7 linked regions of the Homo sapiens genome follow. The protein of the gene in region 4 interacts with the protein of the main gene of each other region in a pairwise test. Each region holds a gene or a part of one and is shown on either strand. Other genes may lie near its edges.

Region 1 (2,497 bases), on a different chromosome or scaffold from region 4:
AGGCAATCCACCCACCTCAGCCTCCCAAAGTGCTGGGATGACAGGCGTGAGCAACCGCACCCAGCTTAAGGTTTTTTTGTTTTGTTTTGAGACGGAGTTTTCGCTCTTGTTGCCCAGGCTGGAGTGCAATGCTGTGATCTCAGCTTACCACAACCTCCACCTCCCGGGTTCAAGTGATTCACCTGCCTCAGCCTCCTGAGTAGCTGGTATTACAGGCATGCGTCACCACGCCGGCTAATTTTGTACTTTTAGTAGAGATGGTGTTTCCCCACGTTGGTCAGTCTGGTCTCAAATTCCTGACCTCAGGTGATCTGCCTGCCTCGGCCTCCCAAAGTGCTGTGATTACAGACGTCAGCCACCATGCCTGGCCTGAAACCTTTTTTAGGTAAAGTTGAATTCCATCCTTAAAAGTTTCTGTTATATCCTATTTAGCCATTTTCTATTGTCTCCCAAAGAATTCACATCAAAAAAACAGCTTTGAACTCCCCCTTCAAAGGAAACAGTCGACTTTCATAATTAGCATCTACCATTATCCCCAAATCTTATTTTATTCATTGACTTGAAATTTTTTCCAATTGCTTTTTTTTTTTTTTTTTTAAGGTTAAGAGCAGAGGTTTACTAGGCCAAAGAAAGAGAATAGCTCTCTGTTGCAGAGAGGGGTCCTGGAGAAATGGGTTACCCCAGTTGTCTTATTTAAATGGTTACCCATCAGATTTTAATTTTATCTTCTCTTTGAGAGCTTGGTAATAAGAAGCACTTAAATCACTCCAAAGAAGACTTTAAAAAGGGAGCAGTGAAAAGGTCTTAATAATTTATTGATTGAATTAAGAAATACTAGCTAATTAAGAATCTGAGTCTAAACAGCACAGATTTTTTCTTTCTGCTTTTAAATTGTGTTTTAAAAAAAGAGACAGGGGGCTGGGCGTGGTGGCTCACGCCTGTAATCCTAGCACTTTGGGAGGCCGAGGCGGGTGGATCACGAGGTAGGAGTTAAAGACCAGCCTGGCCAACATGGCAAAACCCTACTAAAGATACAAAAAAAAAAAAAAATTAGCCAGGCGTGGTGGTGGGTGCCTGTAATCCCAGGTACTTGGAAGGCTGAGGCAGGAGAATCTCTTGAACCCAGAAGGCGAAGGTTGCAGTGAACCGAGATCATGCCATTGTACTCTAGCCTGGGTGACAAGAGCAAGACTCCGTCTCAAAAAAAAAAAAAAAAAAAAAAAGAAGTAGAGACAGGGAGACAGGGTCTCACTGTGTTGCCTAGGCCGGTCTTGAACTCCTGGGCTCAAGTGATTCTCCCACCTTGACCTCCTAAATTGTTGGGATTACAGGTGTGAGACAGTGCACCTGGCCGAAATAGCTCAAGTTTCTGAAAAACAAATCTGAATCTATTTGTTATTCTTAGCGTCACTGGTCTGGCTTTCAGAATTAACATACAAGGTTGCCACACCTAGTTCTGCCCAGCTTTATGTCTTTTATTCCAGTATTCCACCAAAGTTTGTTTTCCTGCATTCCAGTTCTCAAGTCTTAAGATAAAGATTGTACTTGACAGTTTAGTATATCCATAAAACTATTTGAGGTGGTTAAGGTTCTTGGGTTCATTTTCCTTAATACTTTGCTGAATATTGTAGATTGTAGGCAATGAAAAAGTCTACTAAATTAGGAAAACCTTGAATAATTAGGTATCCTAGGTAAGAGCCCCTAAACATCAAGCAATCTGTGAGTCTGTAAAGAAATAAATATTTTTTGGATTATTCTTATCTAATTCCACCCCTGTTGGAAGATGATTTCTTTGTTCTTTGCAACTATGGAAGCTGTGAAAATCATCACAAGTGCCTCTGAAAGCGAGTGTTAGGTTGGTTAGAGGGTTTAATATTTTCTGCAATGGTTTGTAGGAATTTTAATAAATGTAGTATATTTTCTGAGATGATTTTGTAAAAGTACTATTTTAAATATCAAATCAACCAATAAATTCACATTTGTGTTAGGAACAGAAATATGGTTTATATCTTTGCTGGCTTGGTTTCCTTTTTCTTAATGTCTCTGGGAGGCTTATTCCTTCATTGTGGAAATTTTAGCTATTTAAACATGTAAATTTTTCTTTCTACAGCCAGGTAACTATAAACACAGCCAATAGATTTTACACAAAGCAATCCTAGAAGTATCAGAATGGGTTTTGAAAAGTTCAAGTCCATCATGTGATCATGTTTGGCTACTTTAAAAAAGCAAAAAAGTTCAAGTCTAACGATCCCATTTGTGAAATCCACAGAGCAGAAAGAAAGGAAGCTTTTACTATTTTAACTATCTCTTGAACGTGAAAAGTTATTGATGCAGTGAGGTCGAATGCACACCTACTGCTTCCTAAGCTCTGGAACATGAATCTCCTTCCTCTGTCATCTCCCCAGAATTGGAACCTCCTTAATCCAACCATCTCACTATTGGTCAGTCTAGTGATTGAGAAATAGGAAAAGCCACAGGTTGAAATGATGAAATGTCA
Region 2 (3,282 bases), about 74 Mb from region 4:
CTGTCTTGCAGGTGACTCAGATATTGCTGGGGGTTGTGAGTTGTGTTCTTGGAGTGTGTCTCAGCTTGGGGCCCTGGACTGTGCTGAGTGCCTCAGGCTGTGCCTTCTGGGCGGGGTCTGTGGTGAGTAAGGAACAGGCTGTGAGCCTGGAGGGAGGCAAGTGGTGATGGGCAAGAAGGCGCTTATGGATCTTGGTTGGGGCTTTGGGGAAGCGACCAAAGTCTCTGGAGCCAAATGGCCTTTGGCCATGAGGAGGCTGCTCTGGGGTGTAGCTAAAACCCTGTCACTTCCATTTTTCTCTTGAAGACAGATGGGAGGGGTGGGGCAGGTATAGGTGGAATCCTGGTCTGTGTGTCAGAGTTCTTTGTCTGTCCCTGGGATCCTGCTTCACATTGGCTATTCTGGGAACTGCTGGTGGGAGGGTGATGATAGACCAATTCAGAAGAGTAAACTGGAGGCCTTTTTCTGGTGTCTCTTTTCAGGTGATCGCAGCAGGAGCTGGGGCCATTGTCCATGAGAAGCACCCGGGCAAACTTGCTGTGAGTCTTGGACACCCTCTCTCCACCTTGTTCACTGACCCCCTCCTGAATTCTGCTCCATTATCTGTCTTCTGCCCTTTGGTTGTCAATATCTTGGGGTCTTTCTTGGAGGGGAGGAGAGGGTTTCCTGGACAAGGGCTGGGGAAGAGGAGAGGGATTTGAGGCGGGGACCTCATGACTCTTCCACCGATTGAAGGAGCGTGTGTCATGACCCTCTTTCTCTTCCAGGGCTATATATCCAGCCTGCTCACCCTGGCAGGCTTTGCTACAGCTATGGCTGCTGTTGTCCTCTGCGTGAATAGCTTCATCTGGCAAACTGAACCCTTTTTATACATCGACACTGTGTGTGATCGCTCAGACCCTGTCTTCCCTACCACTGGGTACAGATGGATGCGGCGAAGTCAAGAGAACCAATGGCAGAAGGAGGAGTGTAGAGCTTACATGCAGATGCTGAGGGTGAGCAGGAAGAGTCCAGTCTTCGGGGACCCATCACAGCTCTTTTTTCCCAGGGAGCTGGGGGCCCTGGAGGACAGAGATGTAGGCTCTTTGAGCTTGGACTTCATGCTGGGTCTTTCATTCAGGAGGTTTTAATGTAAGCTACAGACATTTTTCAGACCTCATGACACGAAGATTCTCTGAATCAAGGAGGGTGAGGAACAAAGAGGAGACATTTCAGAGAGGAGATAGTGGGTCACCCTTCTGGCTTTTCTGGTGTGTTGGTATCACAGTTTTCCATTACTGAATTAAAAACCACACCAAAATGTAGTGGCTTAAAATGACAACTTATTATTTCTCACGGTGCTGTGAGTTGGCTGGATTCAGATGAGCCATTCTCACTCACGGGTTTTCTCATGCAGTTACAGTCAGATGGGGGTGAAGTTATCCAAGTGCTCGCCGAGGCTGGAGGTCTGAGATGATGTAGTTGCATGGTCCGGAGCTCAGCGGGGGCTGTCAGCAAGAGCCGGCAATGGCTTCTCCACTTGGCTTGGGCTTCTCATAGCACAGAAACTGGATTCCAATGGGGAGTACCCTAGTTGCAAGCATTTCAGGAGACAGAAAGTAGAAGCTGCCAGACCAGCTAAGGGCTTCCCTGTCACTGTATAGTGTCACTTTCACTGTGGCCAAAGCAGTTCTAGGCCCTTCCAGATTCTACGGGTTGAAGGAATAGTCTCCACTTCTTGACAGGGAGTGATAAGTTCACTCTGCAGACAAGCCAACGGGATGGAAGCTGTGGCTGGAAACACAGTCAGCTGTGGTGGGAGCAGCAAGCTGGATAGAGTCAGTGCCTGGGTGGGTGGAGAGGGTGGTGATGTGGGCAGCATTGGAGTAGCTGACACCTGACTATCTTTGTTCTTCCCTTATCTCCAGAAGTTGTTCACAGCAATCCGTGCCCTGTTCCTGGCTGTCTGTGTCTTGAAGGTCATTGTGTCCTTGGTTTCCTTGGGAGTAGGTCTTCGAAACTTGTGTGGCCAGAGCTCCCAGCCCCTGGTGAGTTGTCGGGGAGGGGCCTCTGGGCAGCGTGAGTCTGGGTGGTGAGTGTGTGGGACAGGTAGGAGTGCGGGGCCAGGGGCACCCGAACCTGAGGCTGGGCCTGGTGCCCCTCAGCTTCTTTCCATATGCAGCTCTCCCCTTTGCTGTCTGGGGAATGTGGCCATCACCATGGTCCTGGGCCAACTGTCGCCGCCCTGTGCCTCTCTGCGCCCTCCTCTGCTCTGATCTCCCCACTCTCCCCTCTGCCCTGTCCCAGGTGTTCGTCTGACTCCCCTTCCTCTGCCACCTTGTTTTTTTTTTGCCTGATCTGCTTTTCCTGTCACCTTTTCCTTTCCCTCCTCCTTTCCTCTTTCTGCTTTCTGAGTTCTATGATACTAACTCTGCCTGCATCCTTTTCCCCTAAGGATTTCTTTTTTCTTTTTTTTCCAGAATGAGGAAGGATCAGAGAAGAGGCTACTGGGGGAGAATTCAGTGCCCCCTTCGCCCTCTAGGGAGCAGACCTCCACTGCCATTGTCCTGTGAGCTGCCAAAGACCCCACGGGGTGCCCGCATGTCCCTGTCTAGGGCAGCCCAGGGCCCCCACTCCTGGCTCCTCACACTTGCCTCCCCTATGGCCGCTCTCCAGACCCTCCTCCTTTCTTCTCCCCACATCCGCACCTGCTGTTCCCACTCTGGGGTTCTCAAGTCCATGAACAGATATTGTTGCATTTTCCACAATGCTGATTAAACATAATAAACAATCCAGAAAAGCAGTTTTGCCCAGAAAGATATGGTTTCCCTTTGTTTATACACCTCGTGCGCCATGAAAGGCCTTTCTTTGTGTCGCTATGTATGAGGTTAAATGGGAGCTGATTTATCCCATTAAAACACTGTCCCAAGAAGATTAAATTTAATTATGTTCTGCTGTACATCCAGGTGGCAAAACCCCTTTTTATGATTTTCTTCAATTCAGTGTAAAGTGTAAGTCTAGTGGGCCTAGAATCTTCTTACCTGCTGAGATTGTCTAGGCTCCTACAACCTCGGCCTGTAGACTTAAGAGAACTGTGTGGAGCATGGAATGAGATTTTTGCCCCCTCCCTCCCTGTCTTCCTTCCTTTCTCTTTTTTCGTTTTGCAGTAATTAGTGTTGGTTCTGTCTCTTTTCCTGTCTCCACACACACATAAACACATCCTTAGTCTTCCTTCCTTTCATTGTAAATGATAGCAAACTGATTTTGACTTTTTCCATTTTCTTTATATATGAAGATATAACA
Region 3 (3,500 bases), about 57 Mb from region 4:
AGGGTGTTTTTTTGTCTAGGTCTGTTGTAGATGGTTTTTATTTCTTTATATTTTTCTTGGCTTTAAATAGTCACTTTGTTCCCTTCTGAGACATGGGGAAGGATAAGAAACCGCATTCTCAGTATGTCCATAAGCCATTGTTTTTAGCTTAGTTTGTTAGAACATGGTGCCGATGAGGCACCAAACTTCAGTTTTGAACTGCAGTTAGGTTAGTTCAGCTTGGCTGAAGAAAACGTTCCAACTTTGACCAGTTGTCTAGCATTTATGTCATTGGTTGTAAGAAATGAAAGTTTACCAAGCTTACTAATTCAACAGAGGCAGTCACTGCTGGAAAGCTAATTCTGTGTTCTGTTACACTGTTAAAGATAGTACAGACGGTCTCCTGTTAGGATGGTTCGACTTAGGATTTTTTGACAGTGGTGTGGAAGTGACAAGCGTTCAGTAAACTCAGCTTCTGGCATTACCTTCAGCAAAATCCGTTGTAAACCAAGGAGCATCTATAATTTCATCTTCCTTTATTTTTTTCATATAATGACTTGGGTTCATTCCCTTAATATAAATATGTTGGCAATTATGAGGTTTTTTTGAGTTGGAGTCTCCCTGTGTTGCCCAAGCTGGTCTCAACTCCTGGGCTCAAGCTATCCTCCTGCCCCAGCCTCTGGGACTACGGGCATGTGCCGCTCCACCAGGCTCAGTCATCATTTATCTTAATGTATAAAGAATAACATTTAGTGAACAACATAAGGCTTTTGGTAACTATGCTGAATATTTATTTATTTATTTGAGACGAGTCTTGCTCTGTCACCCAGGCTGGAGGGCAGTGGCATGATCTCAGCTTGCTGCAACCTCTGCCTCCCAGGTTCAAGTGATTCTCCTGCTTCAGCCTCCTGAGTAGCCAGGATTATAGGCCTGTGCCACCATGCCCTGCTAACTTTTTTGTATGTTTAGTAGAGGGGGGTTTCACCATGTTGGCCAGGCTGGTCTCAAACTCCTGACCTCAAGTGATCTACCCACCTCAGCCTCCCAAAGTGCTGGGATTACAGGTGTGAGCCTCCACACCTGGCTGAATTTATTAATAGATTGTGTTTCTCTATATTGTTGAGGTCCTTAATAGCAATGAAAGGACCTACTTCAAATTTTAAGTTTAAAATTTCTTCTCACCTACCAGGTGTTATTTTTCATGGTATTGTAGGGTCTTGTTTTTTCCCTTTATCCTTAGCAACTGATAGCTTTTCTTCCCTCTTCTGTAAAAGTAACCTATATTTTTACACCTGATTCCAACTTTGAATCTGAAACTACTCTTATGGATTGGATGAGAGGTCACTCTTTTGCCTTGCCCTCTTCTCAAGGCTAAAATAAATTCCTAGAGAGGAAAGACCAAGCATTTTCATTACTCATATTACATGTGGTTGATAGGATTTTTGTGAGCACCTGCTGTGCCTGCTTGGAAAGTGTGCTTACAACTCTATCTTTCGCAAGTTTATCTGAAACATCAAAGCTGTGAGTGAACTCTTCTGGAGCAAATGTCAACTTCAATGAGTATCATTTTCAAAGATATATTTATCATGCTTTCCAGACATAAACGAATGTCCGCAGCTGGGCTTTAAAGTTGCAAGCTGAAATTCACAGGAGCCAGTTATGGCAGTATGGATACTTAATATGGAACGTAACTCATGCTTTGGGAAGTGTTGGCAGTTGAGAGACCGTAAATGAAGAGATTACTTAATATGCGGTATTACTGAGGATTCTGAAGAGAGTATGTTATCAGAGACTACAAATTCGGTCAGCCCTTGGGAGTGTTGAGGAATGTTGTGCAAATTTAGTTAAGTAGTGGATGATTAGTTTCTTTCAGCTTTAGATTCTATGAAGTTTTTGGCTACCATCTTAAGTTATCTAGGATTTTATAAAGGTAGGGATAATGGTTTCTACTAATGACAAATGTAAAGAAACACAGACATAAGCTAAGCATTACATATTTCATATATATCTATCAACATATATATGGGTTCCCTCTCCCCCTTTCTCTTAACTAACTATTTGGGAGTAATTTCTCCCAAATAATAATGGCAGTTTTTGGAGCCTATGTCTTAAAAAGGTAATTGTGAAGCAAACTAATACTCACACAGAAAATGACCTATGCTAAGTGGAAGGAGGATCAAGAGAGAAAAAATGGGTCTGAGTTCTTGAATCAATTTGCTAGGACACATCTGGAAGAAGATAAGATAAACTAATGGAGGCAGGAGGCTGATTTATTTGTCTCATGTGGCTCATAACTTTACCTCTTAGAAGGGCCACTGAAGAATTCCTCTTTTTTTACTCTGTTACCTGGGAGTAGAAATACTTTCTCTTTGTCCAACTCACCCAGTCTCCTGTTTCTGAGAAAATTCTTTCTTTTGGATTGGTGGGTAGTGTTTCTGGCACGGATTTTGGATAAGACCAAACAAGGTGGGTAGGAAGAGATGAGTGGGAAGACTGTAGGAGATGACACATGGCCTTTCCCCCTCTGTGGAGCACATTGGTGTGGTGAGTACCACAAATTTAAACTTGGCAAGCTCTGTTTGCTTAAATTTGTCTTTAGGAGCAATAGAGAATAGGGTGGACAGTCAAGTTCAGTGGGCTGAATATCGGCAGACCTGCTTCTTTTGATTGCCCCTTATATTAGAATGGTGGCTCTTTTAGTTCATAGAGCACTGTGGATCTGTAAGCTGTGGATTCTGGCCAGAACCATGCAATAAGCAGACAGTTTTGCATACAGTTGAGTAATTGACCCACGGACTACTCAGTCTGTGGACCTCAGGGTGTAATTCCCAGTATCAATGTGTGTGGGGATTATTTCACTATTCTTTGCTACAAATAATTTCTGTAAATTGCCCTTGGTATTTGCCTTGATGCAGATTCCAGAGATGTCTGGAAAGCAAGTATAATAGGTATAGGTCATTGTACAGGAAAAGGCTTTGCTTAAACAAGTGCCCGGTTCAGGAAAAGATATGTTTCCTGAAGAAGATACTTTTTTTTTTTTTTTTTTTTTTTTTGAGATAGAATCTCATTCTCTTGCCCATGCTGGAGTGCAGTGGTGCGATCTCGGCTCATTGCAACCTCCACCTTCTGGGTTCAAGCGATTTTCCTACTTCAGCTTCCCAAGTAGCTGGGACTACAGGCACCCACCACCATACCTGGCTAATTTTTTATATTTTTAGTAGAGATGGGGTTTCACCGTGTTAGCCAGGATGGCCTTGATCTTCTGACCTCATGATCTGCCTGCCTTGGCCTCCCAAAGTGCTGGGATTATAGGCGTGAGCCACCACACCTGACCGCAAGATACTTCTTACACAGAGGCTGCCATCGCAGAAGCTTGTGTTGTACTATCGACCCCCATTTTGGGTCATTTTTTATCAGAAAGATGAGTTGTTCTGCAGCTACAGATTGCGTGTATAATCCTGGCCAGCATCTCTAAAGCTTGTCAGCTGCTTCACGAGTGAGTACCCCTGTTCACAGAGGAG
Region 4 (3,500 bases):
ATTTTGAAAAGAAGGAAAGAGGAATGTTAGGTCTTTTAAGACAGATGTTTAGTCTTGTATTGAAGGAGAGTGAACACCTAGATGTATCCTACGTATTAGACAATACTGTCTTGTCCTTTGACTTTTACTAGTCTCTTGAGAAGTTAATATTTTAAATAGGCTACTGGTACTTGCCTTGGGGAGAAAAGGTTCAGGGTTACTAATTTTGTTGAAGTTACTGAGTTAAGCAGTTTAACTCAATGAGGGGTGGGAGGGCAAAGGTGGCAAAAGGCTATCATAATTTTTCTAAATATTCCTAGTGGGATCAATAGACTTTCAAATTCTTTCTATCTTAAATATTCCATTCCCCCTCCCCCCCAGGCTCTTCCAGGAGATCAATAGCTATTATCACTAATGGAGTAATGGTACCTCTGTAGACTCTTCAGAGGTGGAGTTCTGCCAACCATTATTCTAAGTCATGTGGCTTGAATTGTTCTCTTCTTGGGCGTGGAAAGAATACAGATCATACAGCTTGCCTTTCATGTGTTAGCCTTCCCAGTAACTGAAGCAGATATTAAGTGCTTTTTCTGATTATTTTGGAAATCTATGTGTTTTTTGAATTCTACTGAGATTCAACATGGCGCTAAATGTTCATCCTCATTGCAGTCCTGGATTAACTGCAAACCTAAGAGTAGGATTTCATCTCTTGTACTCAGGGAAGCCTTATTTATTAAGCCAATCTTTAAATTATTGAAAAGAGTGGAGAAAACGATGTGTTTTTATCGAGGTAAAAGTTGCGTAACATAACTGTCACATAGTCACATCAGATTTCAAGTGCAATTGAGTGGCATTGGGTACATTCCGTGTTGTGCAGCCATCACCTATGTTGAAGAAGAGAGAAAGTGGTTATTTTTAAAAAGTGATGCCGGTCTGGACTACAGCTGGCTGGAATTCAGCACCTATTCAGGAATGTGTCGATAATGGAGTGCCCACAACAGCTCACAGCCAGCGATAATTGTCTATCCCTTTGTCTTCATTTCCAAGCGTCTGAACTGAAAAAAGGGAATTAGCTTTAGCTACGTTTGTACTGTATTTCCACTTAAAAAGTTATGGAACTTGAACACTGTATAATGTTCACCCAAATAAATAAGAACAATTTACTTGAAATCTGAGCAAATCGTTAACTCTTTGGGGATTATGGAAATTTTGCTGGTGTTCTAGTGACTCGTTTTCAGCCCTAAGGCTGGCTTTATTATCAGTGATTTGCCGCCTGTGTGGTAGTGGTTTCCTAATGAGTAGGATGCAGGGTTGAGACTGGGGAGCTCCTGCAGCATGAGGCTCTTAACTGATGGGACGCCAGCACAAGACATTCAGTACATTGTGGCTGTCAGGAGCTGGATGGGAAAAGTAGTTACTTTTCCCTTCTTTGCCCATTCCCAATATCAGCAGTCCTAACCTTATTTTATTTTATTGTATTTTATTTTAATTTTTTTGAGACGGAGTCTTGCTCTGTCACCCAGGCTGGAGTGCAGTGGGCAGTGGTGTGGTATCTCGGCTCACCGCAACCTCTGCCTCCCAGGTTCAAGTGATTCTCCTGCCTCAGCCTCCCAAGTAGCTGGGATTACAGGCACCCACCACCACGCCCAGTGAATTTTTGTAGTTTTGATAGAGACAGGGTTTCACCATGTTGGCCAGGCTGAGCTCGAACTCCTGACTTCAGGTGATCTGCCCACCTCAGCCTCCCAAAGTGCTGGGATTACAGGCGTGAGCCACCGTGCCCAGCCTCAAGGACCACTTTCTATGCTCGGTAGTCAAAGGGAAATACTACTTTTAAATGATATAAAACGTTATCTTCTCTTTGCCTTCTTTTGAAAGTTACTTAGTGTTTTACCAGATATTCCAGTCTATAATTATGTGTGCGTTTGATTGCTTGTTTTTTGTTTTTTTTTTTTTTGAGGCAAGGTCTCACTCTGTCACCCAGGCTGGAGCATGGCTCACTGCAGCCTCCACCTCACAGGCTAAAGCGACCCTCCAGCCCCAGCCACCCAAGTAGTTGGGACTACAGGAGCATGCTACCACACCTGGCTATTTTTTTGTACCGTTTTTTGTAGGAACGGGGTGTTGCCATGTTGTCCAGGCTGGTCTTGAGCTCCTGGACTCAAGCAGTCTGCCCATCTTGGCCTCCCAAAGTACTGGGATTACAGGTGTGAGCCACCACACCCAGCCCGGTCTATAATTATAATGCAGCTAAATGTTGCCTTTCTACAAAGGCTACCAATACCAGCTGCCTTATGGCCTCTCCTCTCAGAATTATTTTTCTGTATCTTCCCCAAATTCCATTTTAGGTGTCAGCTATCATTTTGATTAACTACCAAAACATATTATTTTACTTAAAATTGTCATTTGTAGAAATCTTGAAAATTTTGATATTTTGCTAAATGAATTTATGAATTTGAGTGGTAGAAAATTAGTTACACGAAAACTGATTTAAAAAATTCCCTGGGTCAGGCACGGTGGCTCACGCCTGTAATCCCAGCACTTTGGGAGGCTGAGGCAGGTGGACCATGAGGTCAGGAGTTGGAGACCAGCCTGACCAACATGGTGAAACTTGTCTCTACTAAAAATACAAAAAATTAGCTGGGCATGGTGGCATGCACCTGTAATCCTAGCTACTTGGGAGGCTGAGGCCGGAGAATTACTTGAACCTGGGAGGTGGAGGTTGCAGGGAGTTGAGATTGCACCACTGCACTCCAGCCTGGGTGACAGAGCAAGACTCCATCTTGAAAAAAAGAAAAAAAATTCCCAAAAGAAAGCTTTAATTTTAAGGTAAATAGTTATAAATAATTGGTTTGCTACCATGATTTTGTAGAAAAAATAAAAATTGTAAATCTTAAAAGACCATGTGCATGAGTCTTTTCTTTCTGTTTAAAGAACTGGTGAAGTCTTAGTTAAATTGCTCCCAGCATTTCACTTGTTAAGTGTGTGTCCTACAGAAATAGACTTTTCTTTACCTGAGTTGAATACTACTAATATGTGCTGCATGGCATTAAGTTTTGGTTATGGGCCGGATGTAGTGGCTCACGCCTGTAATCCCAGCACTTTGGGAGGTCGAGGTGGGTTGATCACTTGAGGTCAGGAGTTCAAGACCAGCCTGCTCAACATGGTGAAATCCCATCTGTACTAAAAATAACAAAAATTAGCTGGGCATGGTGGCGCATGCCTGTAATCCCAGCTACTAGAGAGGCTGAGGTAGGAGAATCACTTGAACCCAAGAGGCAGAGGTTGCAGTGAGCTGAGGTCATACCACTGCACTCCAGCCTGGGTGACAGTGTGAGACTCTGTCTCTAAAAAAAAAAAAAAGTTTTGGTTGTGAATAGGAAAGAGAGTGTTCTTACATAATTTAGATTTTTAACATAACATTAAAACAATAAAATTATTCCAAATAAACTCTTGGGCTTCTTAACCTTTGGAAGGGTACCTGTCTTTGGAGAGAGAAAGCCCATTTTGGTGAGTGGGACCCA
Region 5 (3,500 bases), on a different chromosome or scaffold from region 4:
AGGTGGAGGTTGCAGTGAGCTGTGATTGTGACACTGCACTCCAGCCTGGGCAACAGAGACCCTGTCTCAAAAAAAAAAAAAAATTGCTCTGACTATTCTAGGTCATTTGCACATCCATAAATTTTAGAATTATCTTGTCAATGTCTCTGAAAGGACCCGCTGGGATTTTGGATTGTAATCGTGTTGGCTATTGTGAGACTTTTCTCAAAAAGGAATTAATGAGGCCTGGATCTCATTTCCTGTAGGCATTAAAGAAAATTCCACTAAGATGTGTGACTGTAGGCCAAAGGTCACTAACTCAGTAAGTGAGGCAGGTAAGGAAAATGAATGGAGGGGCCAGGAATGAGATGATCATGGCAGCTGATCCTGGGCCATCGTGAAGGGATAATAGGGTACAGTGAGGACTTGGCAAACACGATCTAAGGGGGTGGCCTCTTCTCAGCTTCATCCAGCGATGCCATGCAAGAACATGGGTTCAGTGTTGTCTGATCTTTCAATCAGGAGAAGTTGGAAATCCATATTTTTATGCAGTGTCCTGATTTTTTCAATTGAAATTTAATACACTGAATGGGTCAACATCTGGTGGGTAAACAGAACACTCTAGGTGAAATGTGGCCTATGGGCTGCCAGTCTGTGACCTCGGCCTTAGGCTAATCATTCTTTGGTTCACATGTTCATCATCTGTAAACATGAAGGTGTTGAAGACAGTCTCAAAGTTCTTTTTCTAGCTCAATGAGTCTAAATTTCAAAAGAGGAAAATGTCAAAATAACTCAGAGTTTGAAGAGGTAGCTGAGATCAGCAATAATGATAATATCTTAAGTTGACCAGAGCTTTACATTTGACATACCACTCTTGTGTCTGTGTCATTTAATCCTCACTTTATCTTGTGCAGGAGGCGTCAGAGTTGTTTGCCCAACCACACGGGAGTTGCAGGTTACAAAGTCACATCATCCGATTCCAGGTCCAGTGCTTTTTGTTTTTTTAGAGTCTCGCTCTGTCGCCCAGGCTGGAGTGCAATGGCGCCATCTCGGCTCACGGCAAGCTCCGCCTCCCGGGTTCATGCCATTCTCCTGCTTCAGCCTCCTGAGTAGTTGGGACTGCAGGCGCCCACCACCATGCCTGGCTAATTTTTTTGTACTTTTAGTAGAGACAGGGTTTCACCGTCTTAGCCAGGATGGTCTCGATCTCCTGACCTCGTGATCCGCCCGCCTCGGCCTCCCAAAGTTCTGGGATTTACAGGTATGAGCCACTGCTCCTGGCCTTTTTTTTGAGACAGAGTCTCACTGTGTCACCCAGGCTGTAGTACAGTGGCATGATCTTGGCTCACTGCAACCTCTGCTTCCTGGGTTCAAGCAATTCTTCTGCTTCATCCTCCCAAGTAGCTAGGATTGCAGGCATGCACCACCACAGCTGGCTAATAGTTAGTAGAGACGGGGTTTCACCGTGTTGGCCAGGCTAGCCGTGTTCTTTTTTAACAGTCTTTGAAGGCTTCGGAAATAGGTGCTTTGGGAGGGAGAGCAGTTATGGGGGATTGTGAGACGGCCTTCAGCTCAGTTGAGGGCAGGTCCCTATCTGGATTTATAACTTAGTTTGGTTGAAGTGTCAAGGCTTTTGGGTAAGAGTTGAAGCCTTTGTGAGAACTCTCTGAAGGCAGGAACTTTAGCATACATTCATCTTAGTAAGCCAGTGCCTGGCATACTACCTGACACACAGTTAAGTTTTTGTATCAGTAAATCAATGGATAAATTGATCCTTCAAAAAAGAAATCAAAGGCTTTAAATCAAGATGGCTGAGAATTTTGTCCAGAGAATTTCAAGAATAGTCAGATGCTTCTGATAAGTACTTTTAGAATGTTAAGATTGAAAGCTGAGAGACTTTATTCCTATAACTCCACTCCTAGATGGAAAAAACACCATGTCGTCCTCCTCATGTTTGACTCTGAGATTTGGGTTTTGATTAATAGGTTATAACTGTCTCCCTGTGCAGTACATTTAAGAAATCAAATACAGCAGGTATAAGGGAAGTTAAAGCCACTGAAGGATTTCGTATGCCTTTAAAATTTCCAAACAAGTATAAGTCTTTATCTTTTGAGAATACATATTGAAATATGGAGTGATACCATGTCTGAAATTTCTGTCAGTGAGGCACTGCGGGTAGTGGAGAGGGTAAAGATGAAAGATGATTGTATATAAGTTGGTAATTTTTAAGCTAGAAGATGGATAGATGGGGTTTCATTATACTTGTCTTTATTTCACATATACTATTTGAAATCTTTCATAATAAATGTAAAAAGGAAATTATCAGAGAGCTTCATAGGTTCAACAATGCTTTTGGTAAACCAAACTTCACCTTTTTTTTTTTTTTGAGTTTGTAATTAGTATGATCATCGAGGGAAAGATGGGACAAAGGAAAAGAGCATGGCAGAAATGGGCATATGGGCTTTGAGGCTGACAGCCGTGGCTCAGCCTCCTGCTAGCCACGTGGCAAGTCACTGAACTTCCGAGTCTGGGTCTCCAGGTCTGTAACAGCAGGAGAGTACAGTCTCATTTGCATGGTTGTGGGGAGGATTAGGGATGAAGTGGGCCAAGTGTCCGAGAACAGCACCTGGCCCATCCTAGGGGCTTAGATCTGGTAGTGTTTTATTATTGTTAGAGACAGAGAGTGATGAAGGGTAAAAATCTGCCCCAGGGCTCTCGTCTATAACCCTTTCTTCTCTATATGAATTATAGTGCCAAGGGTTATGTAACCATGGAGCTAATTTATTATTTTAGAAACAGAACTCTTAAAGACCAGATCAGACCACTTTGAGATTTACAAGAACTGTAACCAGTTTATTGCTTTTTGAAAAATGAAGTAAGGAAGAACTTACAAAGAAAAGCATATTAAAATGGTGGGATGCCATTTTATACCTATTGAATTGACCTCCTTCCTTACCCCAATTAATGGTAATATCCAATATCAATGAGTTTTTTTGGTGAAACTTTTCTCATATGTATATTATAAACTCTTTGGGAAAGCATTTCGGCAGTATACGTTGAGAGCCACCAAAAGGCCCATATCCAGAGATTTAGTAATCACCCTTTGGAAGGTGTTCTAAGGAAATAATTCAGAAGAACTGTTATATACCCACTAAAAATTACTCTGTAATAGCATAGAAAAGGCTTATGATGAGCATGCTAGGTTGTACCTATCTTATGATCACAGCTATGCAGTTCTTACCATAAATGTAAACGGAGGCTGGAAAAGAGCATGAAGAAGGGAAAACAGCTAATGTGTTAGGGTTGTGGATAGTAGCTTAGTTTTTCTTTCAGAAATTCTTTTATTGTTGTTAAAGATTATGCCAGTGTATCCAAACATACACACTCAAAGACCTTGCAAGAGGACGTTACTATCATGGTATATGGGACATTTGGAACATGGGTAAGCTCTTTCCGAAAATAGAGTAATCAAAACCCAGAAAGCACCGGAAACCTTGAGGGTGTGATCACTTACGTCGAGA
Region 6 (3,500 bases), about 47 Mb from region 4:
CCATTGGTGACTAAAAATCACATTATTCACTATCGGTAAGACAAATTTTGAACTGTTCACCTAACACAGGCTTTTTCTGAAATGAAAGTGTCGTTGAACTTTCCTTGCCTTCTTTACCTTCACTCTCCTGAGTCTCTTATAACAGTGACCAGCTTCCCTGTTTTGTTTTTGATTTTTGGTCTCTCATATGAGTTAATTCCCTGTTAAATAATCTGTCTTAAACATGCTTATTACTTTTTCCCCTTTTCTCCCCCTTTCAGCTGTTTTTTATGTATTCACTTCTTTAACCAAGAAACATTTATTGAATGCCATGTATGGTTCTAGGCATGGAAACTTGTGCCTAGTTGGCACAAAACAGATAAAAATCCTTTCCTTCTTGGAGATTACATGTTAGTGATGGGAGACCAAAAGAAAAAAAAAAAGTAAAAACTGAGTAAAGACGTACATAGTGTGTTAGAAAATAGTAAGTGCAGTGAAGGAAAATAAAACAAGGAAAATGTGTGCCATGGTGGGGATAGGGGATGTTACACTATGTATTAATTTCGTATGGCTGCTGTAATATTCCCACAAACTTGGTGGCTTAAAACAATGTAAGTTTATTTTATTAGACTTCTGGAGGCCAGAAGTTGGAAATCAACATCAGGGACCCAAATCAAGATGGTGTTGTCAGGGCTGTGCTTCCTTTGGAGGATATTGGGTAGAATCTGTTCTTGCCTCTTTCAGCTTCTGGTGGCTTTTGGCATTTATTGGCTTGTGGTCTCATCACTGCAATTTCTGCCTTTGTGGTTACATTACCTTTTCCTTTTCTGTGTGTAATATCCCTCTGCCTCTCTCTTATAAGGACACTTATAATTGCAGTTAGGGACTATATGGATAATTCAGGAAAATCTCCCCATGTCAGCATCCTTAACTTGATCATATATGTGAAGTCTTTGCTGTATAAAGTAACACTCACAGTTTCTAGAAATTAATACATGTATATCTTTTGTGGTATTTTTCAGCCTATCATAATGCAAATTATCAGTAGTTAATCAATAAGAAGGTGTTATTTGAGCAAAGATTTGAAAAGTGGTGAAGAAACAAGTGATGCAGATACCCTGGGCCATCCAGCAAGATACCCTGAGGCAGTAACATATCACGTCTTGTGTTGAAAAGCAAAATGTATTATTTTCTCCCTCTTTATTCCATTTATTGGCCAGAAAAACACCCTGAAAAGACAAAGCCTTATTTACATATGTGGGTATATTTACAGAGCATGATTTCTGGCTCAAAAAGCTCAGTTTACTAGAAAATAACTAAATGTCATTGAATGTTCTAGGTACTATATTTATTAACATTTTGTTCTTAAAAACTTCTATTAAATAATTATATACATTACAAATGTGTAGAAAAAAAGGACTTTTCCAGAACAACAAAACCCTTGCCTCTTCCCCTTCAATTTACTACTTGTAAAGTTAATCTCTATTTGGACTTCTTTTTGCCTGTTTTTGAATTTTATATAAATGAAATCATTAGTATGTACTGTCTTATACATACTGTACTCTGGCTTGTGCTTAATACTGTGGTTAAGAGAATCACCTATATTGTTGCATACAGTTTATTCATTTTCATTGCTGTGAAGTATTATATCCAAATATTATAATTAATTGATCCATTCTATTACAGATGATCATTTGGGTTATTTCTAGTTTGGGGCTATAATTTGTGCTGCTGTGAATATTCTCAAACATGTTTTTTAAAAAATATATTATGCATTTCTGTTTGGCATTATGCCTAGAAGTGTAATTTCTGGGTCATAGAGTAGCATTTATTTCTAATTCTAATGCTCTCAGAGGAAATACAGGAAATATTAAGAAAGCAAAGTCATATTTTAAAATCTGTTTTAGGAAGACTGAATTTGACATTGTATTTCTGTCCCTTGATCAGCATGTCAATAAACATTTAGCACTTTTCAATATTAAGACAGAAAAGCAATGAAATAGCAGAGGTGAAATGAATTTTCACCAAATATTTAGTAAAAAGAGTATGATGAAAGAAAAGTTGTATTTTTAAGTGTTTTTATATAGGAATTTTAAAATATATAGGATATTGAAACATTCAGTTAGTATGCTTCTTTAATTTTTTTTCTCCCTGAAATTATAGGAACCAGATGTTAAAAAATTAGAAGACCAACTTCAAGGCGGTCAATTAGAAGAGGTGATTCTTCAGGTAAAGAAAAAGTTGACTATTTAGGTGTTTGGTTTCATAGAGACACACAACTGACGTTCTAGAATGAAAGGAAAACTAAATTTCCTTGTTTATATCAACTCGTCAAATATGTAAGACTAATCACATATAGAAAATGTGGTGCTTCTCATGTGTATGTTGATTATAGTATTTATTGTTGATTATAGCATGAATTTATGAGACTTCTGTTAGAAGCCTGGAGTTTGACACTCTTTTAATTTAATTAGCATGTTCTCCTTGGCCTAACCTTAGTTTAAATTGGTAGCACAATATTACTGTTGTTTTAATAGTTGTATCTTATTTTAAGAGTGTGGCATATTTTTAGTAGGGAAAAATACAGACATTTTGAATTATAAAATTAAAATGTACTTTTATTTTTATTTTTGGTTCTTGAGCATTTGAGCAAGTTAAAAAACAATTGCATAGTATATTTGAGAGCTTAATTCTACATTATTTCCCAAATACTAACCCTGACAAATAATATTGAGTAGTAAAATGTAAGCATGATTATGAAGAGACTGAGATTAGAAAAATTATTAACATTATTAATTACATTTAGAATATTTAAATCTTAAATTATTCTATTGGGAAATTTTCTTCTCCTCTCACTATACCTGCTGCTTATACAAGAGAACAAACACCGCAGTTTAGTTTTATTTAATCTGAATTTTAATTCTTTTCCTTTGGTCATAGTTAGGTTATAGAAATAGATAGGTTACTGATGTAAATAGGCTGGAAATATACTATTTTGAGTATTCCGTAGTTGGTTTTTTAAAGCATCTATGGGAAAATAATGATAACTCTTTTTTTTTTTTTTTTTTTTTTTTTAAGATTTGCATCTTTTTTCTCCAATTGCTAGTAAGGTTAAACTTTAAAAATATGTTCTTATATTTTATAAATTATGTCATTAATATTTTTACTGGGTCATTTAGTCTGGGTTATTTATACATGAGTGTCTTTTTATAATAAAAGATATTAACCTTAAACTTTTCTGACATTGTCTGCACATACTTTTTCTAGCCTGCTTTTGCCTCTCAAATGGGGTTTTTCCCCCATATGTAGAGGTTTTCAATTTTTTTTTTTTTTTTTTTTTTGAGATGGAGTTTTGCTCTTGTTGCCCAGGCTGGAGTGCAGTGGCATGATCTCGGCTCACCACAACCTCCGCCTCCCGGGTTCAAGCAATTCTCCTGCCTCAGCCTCCTAAGTAGCTAGGATTACAGGCATGTGCCACCACATCCAGCTAATTTTGTATTTTTAGTAGAGACAGGGTTTCT
Region 7 (4,127 bases), on a different chromosome or scaffold from region 4:
TTGTATACAGCAAACTCAACCCATCTCATTTTCTTCCCAGAAAAATTTGATTTTAAGTGAAGCTGTTCACTGTTGATTCTTTGCCCTATTTGGTAAATCCTAAGATAAGAATAAATTTCTAAAAACAATTCTGAAGCCAAAGACATGTCCCTTATGGCTCCCCATGTTTGTAGTGTCCCTGTTTGATTGACTATGAACAACACAGAAAATACACTGGAATGTATTTGGAAACGGAGTTAATTGTGTGTTGGAAAGCAGCAGAGGGCTCTCCTGACACCTCAGAGTCTCACCGTACCTTAGTTTCTTAATAGCAAGCCCCAGAGCAATCTCCTCTAGCTTTTGGGATGAGCATGTGTGGCAGGATTCATCTGCGAGTTCAGGTTGGGTGCTGACCGTTTTGTGTGATGGGTTGGATCTTCTCCAGAGAGACGTCAGTGTCATAGTCCAATATGACTGATAGGGCTGGGGACAGCTTCTCCAAGGGTCTGGCGATGCCAGCTGCCTCCTCCTTTTTCAGGTCCTCAGAGGAGCCCACAGCATGTGGGATCAGGTAAACCAGATTGCACTCCTTGGAGATGGAGCCTCGTGGCTCATGATGGCTGGAAAACATCGCGGCCCCATTGTTATTGATACTCACCGTCTCTATGGCATTATTCGTCGCAGGGCAAAGTCTGTAGCATCCTAAGAGGGTTGAAAATGCCTTCCGAAAATCAGCATTAAAGGCATAAATGATGGGGTTCAAGGATGAATTAGCCCACCCAAACCACACAAACACGTCAAAGGTGTTGGAATCAATGCAGAAGGGCTGCGTCTCCCCAGACCCACAGAAGGGCAAAATGCAGTTCAAGATGAAGAAAGGTAGCCAACAGCACACAAACACACCCATGATCACCGACAGAGTCTTCAGGACTTTAGTTTCTCTTTTGAAGGACATCTTAAAAGAACTTTCCGGTTGAGAACATTCGACAGGCTTTCCATTACCTGTGGTGGTCTGGCAATTCTTGGCGTGGACTGCTGCCCTCTCCAAGGCCGCAATGCGCCGTATTTGTTTCTGAGCAATCCTGTAGATCCTGGTGTAGGTGACAATCATGATGGCCACAGGGATGTAAAAGCTTATTACAGAGGATGAGATGGCATATGTCCTGCTGAGGCTGGAGTCACAGTTGTCTATGGTCTCAGCCAGGGAAGTGGCATTTCCATCAGAGGGGCTTGTGGGTTTTGCCTTGTGCCAGCTGAGCTGCACTGGGATGAAGGAGATGAGTACAGACAAGGTCCATGCCACACTGATCAGGATGAAGGCTGCCTTGGGGGTCATCTTTCTCTCATACCGGAAAGGGCTGGAGATAGCCCAATACCTGTCCACGCTGATCACACAGAGGTTGAGGATGGATGCAGTGGAGCACATGATGTCAAAGGCCACCCAGATGTTACAGAAGGACCCAAAGGGCCAGAAGCCAGCAATCTCAGCCACTGCCTTCCAGGGCATGACCAGGACGGCCACCAAGAGATCTGACACAGCCAAGGAGATGACAAAGAAGTTGGTCACCTTGGACCGCAGGTGTCGGAACCTGATAACGGCAGCACAGACCAGCGTGTTCCCCAGGAGCGTGGACAGGATGAGCAGCGACAGGAAACAGGCAGTGAGGATACGAACAGAGAAGTCCCTCTCCACCACCAGCCCAGTCCCGTCCATGGCAGAGGTGTTCAGAGTCCTCATCTTCCTAAGAGAAAGCACATCAGGGGCTCTGACACCCCTCAAGTTCCCAAGCAGGGAATAGGGGTCAGTCAGATTTCCAGGAGTCCTCCCCACCAGGCAGCACTTTGCACAGCCAGATTGCTTCCCTGGCAGAGGGCCTCACCAACATTCCATGAGAGGACCGCTTGAGTGGCAATCCAAGTCAATCCCGTGGATGGTCACTCTTGATTTCTACATCTGTCTTCTGACTCCCTTGCTGCAGGTCACTGTCTTGGGCACCAGAAAGCCCCTGAATTCCCCAAATAAAGCACTGGCTTTTTAGCATATTCTAAATCATCAATCCAGTGACTCCTGGGCCTCTGCTCTGCTAGTCAGTTGCAATCACATTTCGGGGCTGTTGCTTTTCTGGTGGTGACAGGAGATTCTCCCCTTCTGAGACTCAGCTGAAAATACATGTCTTCTCGCTCCTCCAAGCCCCTGGCTCCTCAGCAGCTCTCCAAACGCCTTAAAAAGCAAAAGGAAAACACACGGTCTTTCTCCAAGACTTAAGCAGATGGCATCATTACTCACGTCAAGCCCAACCTAATAATTCCCAGGGCGAGCCCGTCCGAGCCACCTACCTTGCCTTGGGGTCGTCTCTCTCAAAGCCCCTGGAGCTTGGAATGTGGACTTCGCTGGGGGCAGCGGCTCCGAAACGTTGAGGAAGCGCGCCTGAGCCCAGCCAGCTGCGCGCAGCAGGGGTTCGGCTCCCGGTGCGCAAAAATCGCCGGGGTGCGTTTGGGGAAAGGATCCCAGGCCAGGTCCCAAGAGAGGCGGCGGCAGCCCACTTCCTTGAAGAGCTGGAGATTGTTCAAAGGGCACTAGACCCCGGCTAAGGGCTCCTGGGCGCTCGGAGCTTCCTTGGGAGAGAGCACTCCCAGGACTGGTCACCTGGGCAGCTTCTTTTCTTGGCTTCCTTTCGAGAGCCCAGAGCCTTGGCGAACCTCGGGCGGCCTTCAGCCCTACAGAGCAGGGCCCCGCGCCTCCCCGCAGGCACTGCCCGCGACCTCTCAGGAGCCTGTGGCAATGCGAGGCAGCGAGCCGAGCTGGCACCAGCAAGCGCACAGGCCGGCGGGGTTCCCGCGGGGCACAGCCCACCCCGCCCGCGCGTCCCCTCCCCTGCCCTGGGGGCGGTCCTCGCTTGACAGGCAGAGTTGCGGGCGACAGCCGCACGTGGTCCCCCTGGATGGTTCTGCGGGCGAGGTGGGCGGAGGACGCCCCGGTGAGTGCTTGCCCTCCCTGGTTACCTCGCCAGTCTCCGGATCCCCGCGCAGCACGCGCAGGGCCCGCGAGGCAAATCCAATGTCAGAACCTCAAGTAAGCTTGAGTCCCCTGAAAGCAAAGCTCAGCCCCGACATCCAGCGCCTCTTGGGGTCAACCCCTAGCCGGACCCAAAGCCCTAAGCGAGCGGGAGCACCCCCCATTCCCCGCACACCAACTCCTAGAACGGCCGGCGGACGTCCGACCTGCGTTGTCTCCAAGTGTCCCCTAACTAGGGTTGGAGATGCCCGTGGGCGCCTGTACTCACCGCTCGCAGGGAGGGCGCGGCGCAGCTGGGATCCGGGCCAGCGCGCGCCGCTGCGCCCCGAGGGGACTCACTCCTTCCCCGCCCAGGTGGCGGGCGCGTCCCGGCTGCGGTCAACGCCGGACTCCAGCCGGTGCCCCGCACCTCCCGAGCGCCCCAACCCCAGCGCCGCGCGCTCCGTGTGCCCGGGGCGCCCTCTGCCGGCGGCTGCGACTTCCCGAGCGCCCGCTGTGCCCTCGCGGGCACCAACCTCACTCACAAGGGTTCCAGCGACCGCCAGGGACCCGCGCCCCGACTCGCTCTTCCCGGTCCATGACTGCCAGAACCTGAAAACAGGGAAGCGGAATCTTCTCCACTCAGGACTCCTCCGCTTGAAACACCCTGAAAAACGGACAAGGGTGAAAAATTTTACTTTGCTGGCATTGCATTCGTGAATCTATGTTTCCTCCTGCGCGCCCACTGCGTTCAAACCTGGGGCGCTAGAGCAGGCGAGACGCAAGCCTTACTCTCAAAGAGAACGGCAGAGCGGGCATTGACTCAGCAGCATCCGTGTTCCCCGGTGCACGCCTTACGTTGTTCCCCCGTTAAAAGAATCTTTCCCCGCCAGGCCGGCTCAACCCGCTTCGCCCAGGTGGAAATGCGGCTCGGAAAGGTAGTGGGGCCTGCTCAAAGTCACACAGCTCACGCGGGAGCCGCGCCGCTGCCCACCTGTTCTTTTAACTCACCGCATGTGGTACAGGAGCCCACAAACTGGAAAATTACCTACAGGGCTAAAATACAGGGAAGAGTCATATGGAGGCAGCGGGGCCTGGTGGAGAAGGAGCCCCCAGCCTCCCCTGGTTGCCCCAGGCAAGCTCACAGGTGAGA

What was found.
Region 1: the proteins of YWHAG (region 4) and TMT1A interact in binary tests that used the Homo sapiens proteins (3 or more experiments, as listed by UniProt).
Region 2: the proteins of YWHAG (region 4) and TMEM176B interact in binary tests that used the Homo sapiens proteins (3 or more experiments, as listed by UniProt).
Region 3: the proteins of YWHAG (region 4) and CHCHD3 interact in binary tests that used the Homo sapiens proteins (3 or more experiments, as listed by UniProt).
Region 5: the proteins of YWHAG (region 4) and CRTC3 interact in binary tests that used the Homo sapiens proteins (3 or more experiments, as listed by UniProt).
Region 6: the proteins of YWHAG (region 4) and NDUFA5 interact in binary tests that used the Homo sapiens proteins (3 or more experiments, as listed by UniProt).
Region 7: the proteins of YWHAG (region 4) and DRD1 interact in binary tests that used the Homo sapiens proteins (3 or more experiments, as listed by UniProt).

The regions. Positions count from the first base shown.
Region 1 is NC_000012.12:50,930,512-50,933,008, forward strand, and holds the end of TMT1A (thiol S-methyltransferase TMT1A precursor), read left to right. Parts: 3' UTR 1-1,997; downstream 1,998-2,497. UniProt on the Homo sapiens protein: Thiol S-methyltransferase that catalyzes the transfer of a methyl group from S-adenosyl-L-methionine to alkyl and phenolic thiol-containing acceptor substrates.
Region 2 is NC_000007.14:150,790,801-150,794,082, reverse strand, and holds the end of TMEM176B (transmembrane protein 176B), read left to right. Parts: intron 1-11; coding exon 12-122; intron 123-482; coding exon 483-539; intron 540-767; coding exon 768-995; intron 996-1,907; coding exon 1,908-2,027; intron 2,028-2,459; coding exon 2,460-2,552; 3' UTR 2,553-2,782; downstream 2,783-3,282. UniProt on the Homo sapiens protein: May play a role in the process of maturation of dendritic cells. Required for the development of cerebellar granule cells.
Region 3 is NC_000007.14:133,075,591-133,079,090, reverse strand, and holds part of CHCHD3 (MICOS complex subunit MIC19), read left to right. Parts: intron 1-3,500. UniProt on the Homo sapiens protein: Component of the MICOS complex, a large protein complex of the mitochondrial inner membrane that plays crucial roles in the maintenance of crista junctions, inner membrane architecture, and formation of contact sites to the outer membrane.
Region 4 is NC_000007.14:76,352,492-76,355,991, reverse strand, and holds part of YWHAG (14-3-3 protein gamma), read left to right. Parts: intron 1-3,500. UniProt on the Homo sapiens protein: Adapter protein implicated in the regulation of a large spectrum of both general and specialized signaling pathways. Binds to a large number of partners, usually by recognition of a phosphoserine or phosphothreonine motif.
Region 5 is NC_000015.10:90,536,423-90,539,922, forward strand, and holds part of CRTC3 (CREB-regulated transcription coactivator 3), read left to right. Parts: intron 1-3,500. UniProt on the Homo sapiens protein: Transcriptional coactivator for CREB1 which activates transcription through both consensus and variant cAMP response element (CRE) sites.
Region 6 is NC_000007.14:123,544,319-123,547,818, reverse strand, and holds part of NDUFA5 (NADH dehydrogenase [ubiquinone] 1 alpha subcomplex subunit 5), read left to right. Parts: intron 1-1,001; exon of another isoform or gene 1,002-1,161; intron 1,162-2,142; coding exon 2,143-2,208; intron 2,209-3,500. UniProt on the Homo sapiens protein: Accessory subunit of the mitochondrial membrane respiratory chain NADH dehydrogenase (Complex I), that is believed not to be involved in catalysis. Complex I functions in the transfer of electrons from NADH to the respiratory chain.
Region 7 is NC_000005.10:175,441,383-175,445,509, forward strand, and holds the start of DRD1 (D(1A) dopamine receptor), read right to left. Parts: upstream 2,801-4,127; 5' UTR 2,317-2,800; intron 2,201-2,316; 5' UTR 1,718-2,200; coding exon 377-1,717; 3' UTR 1-376.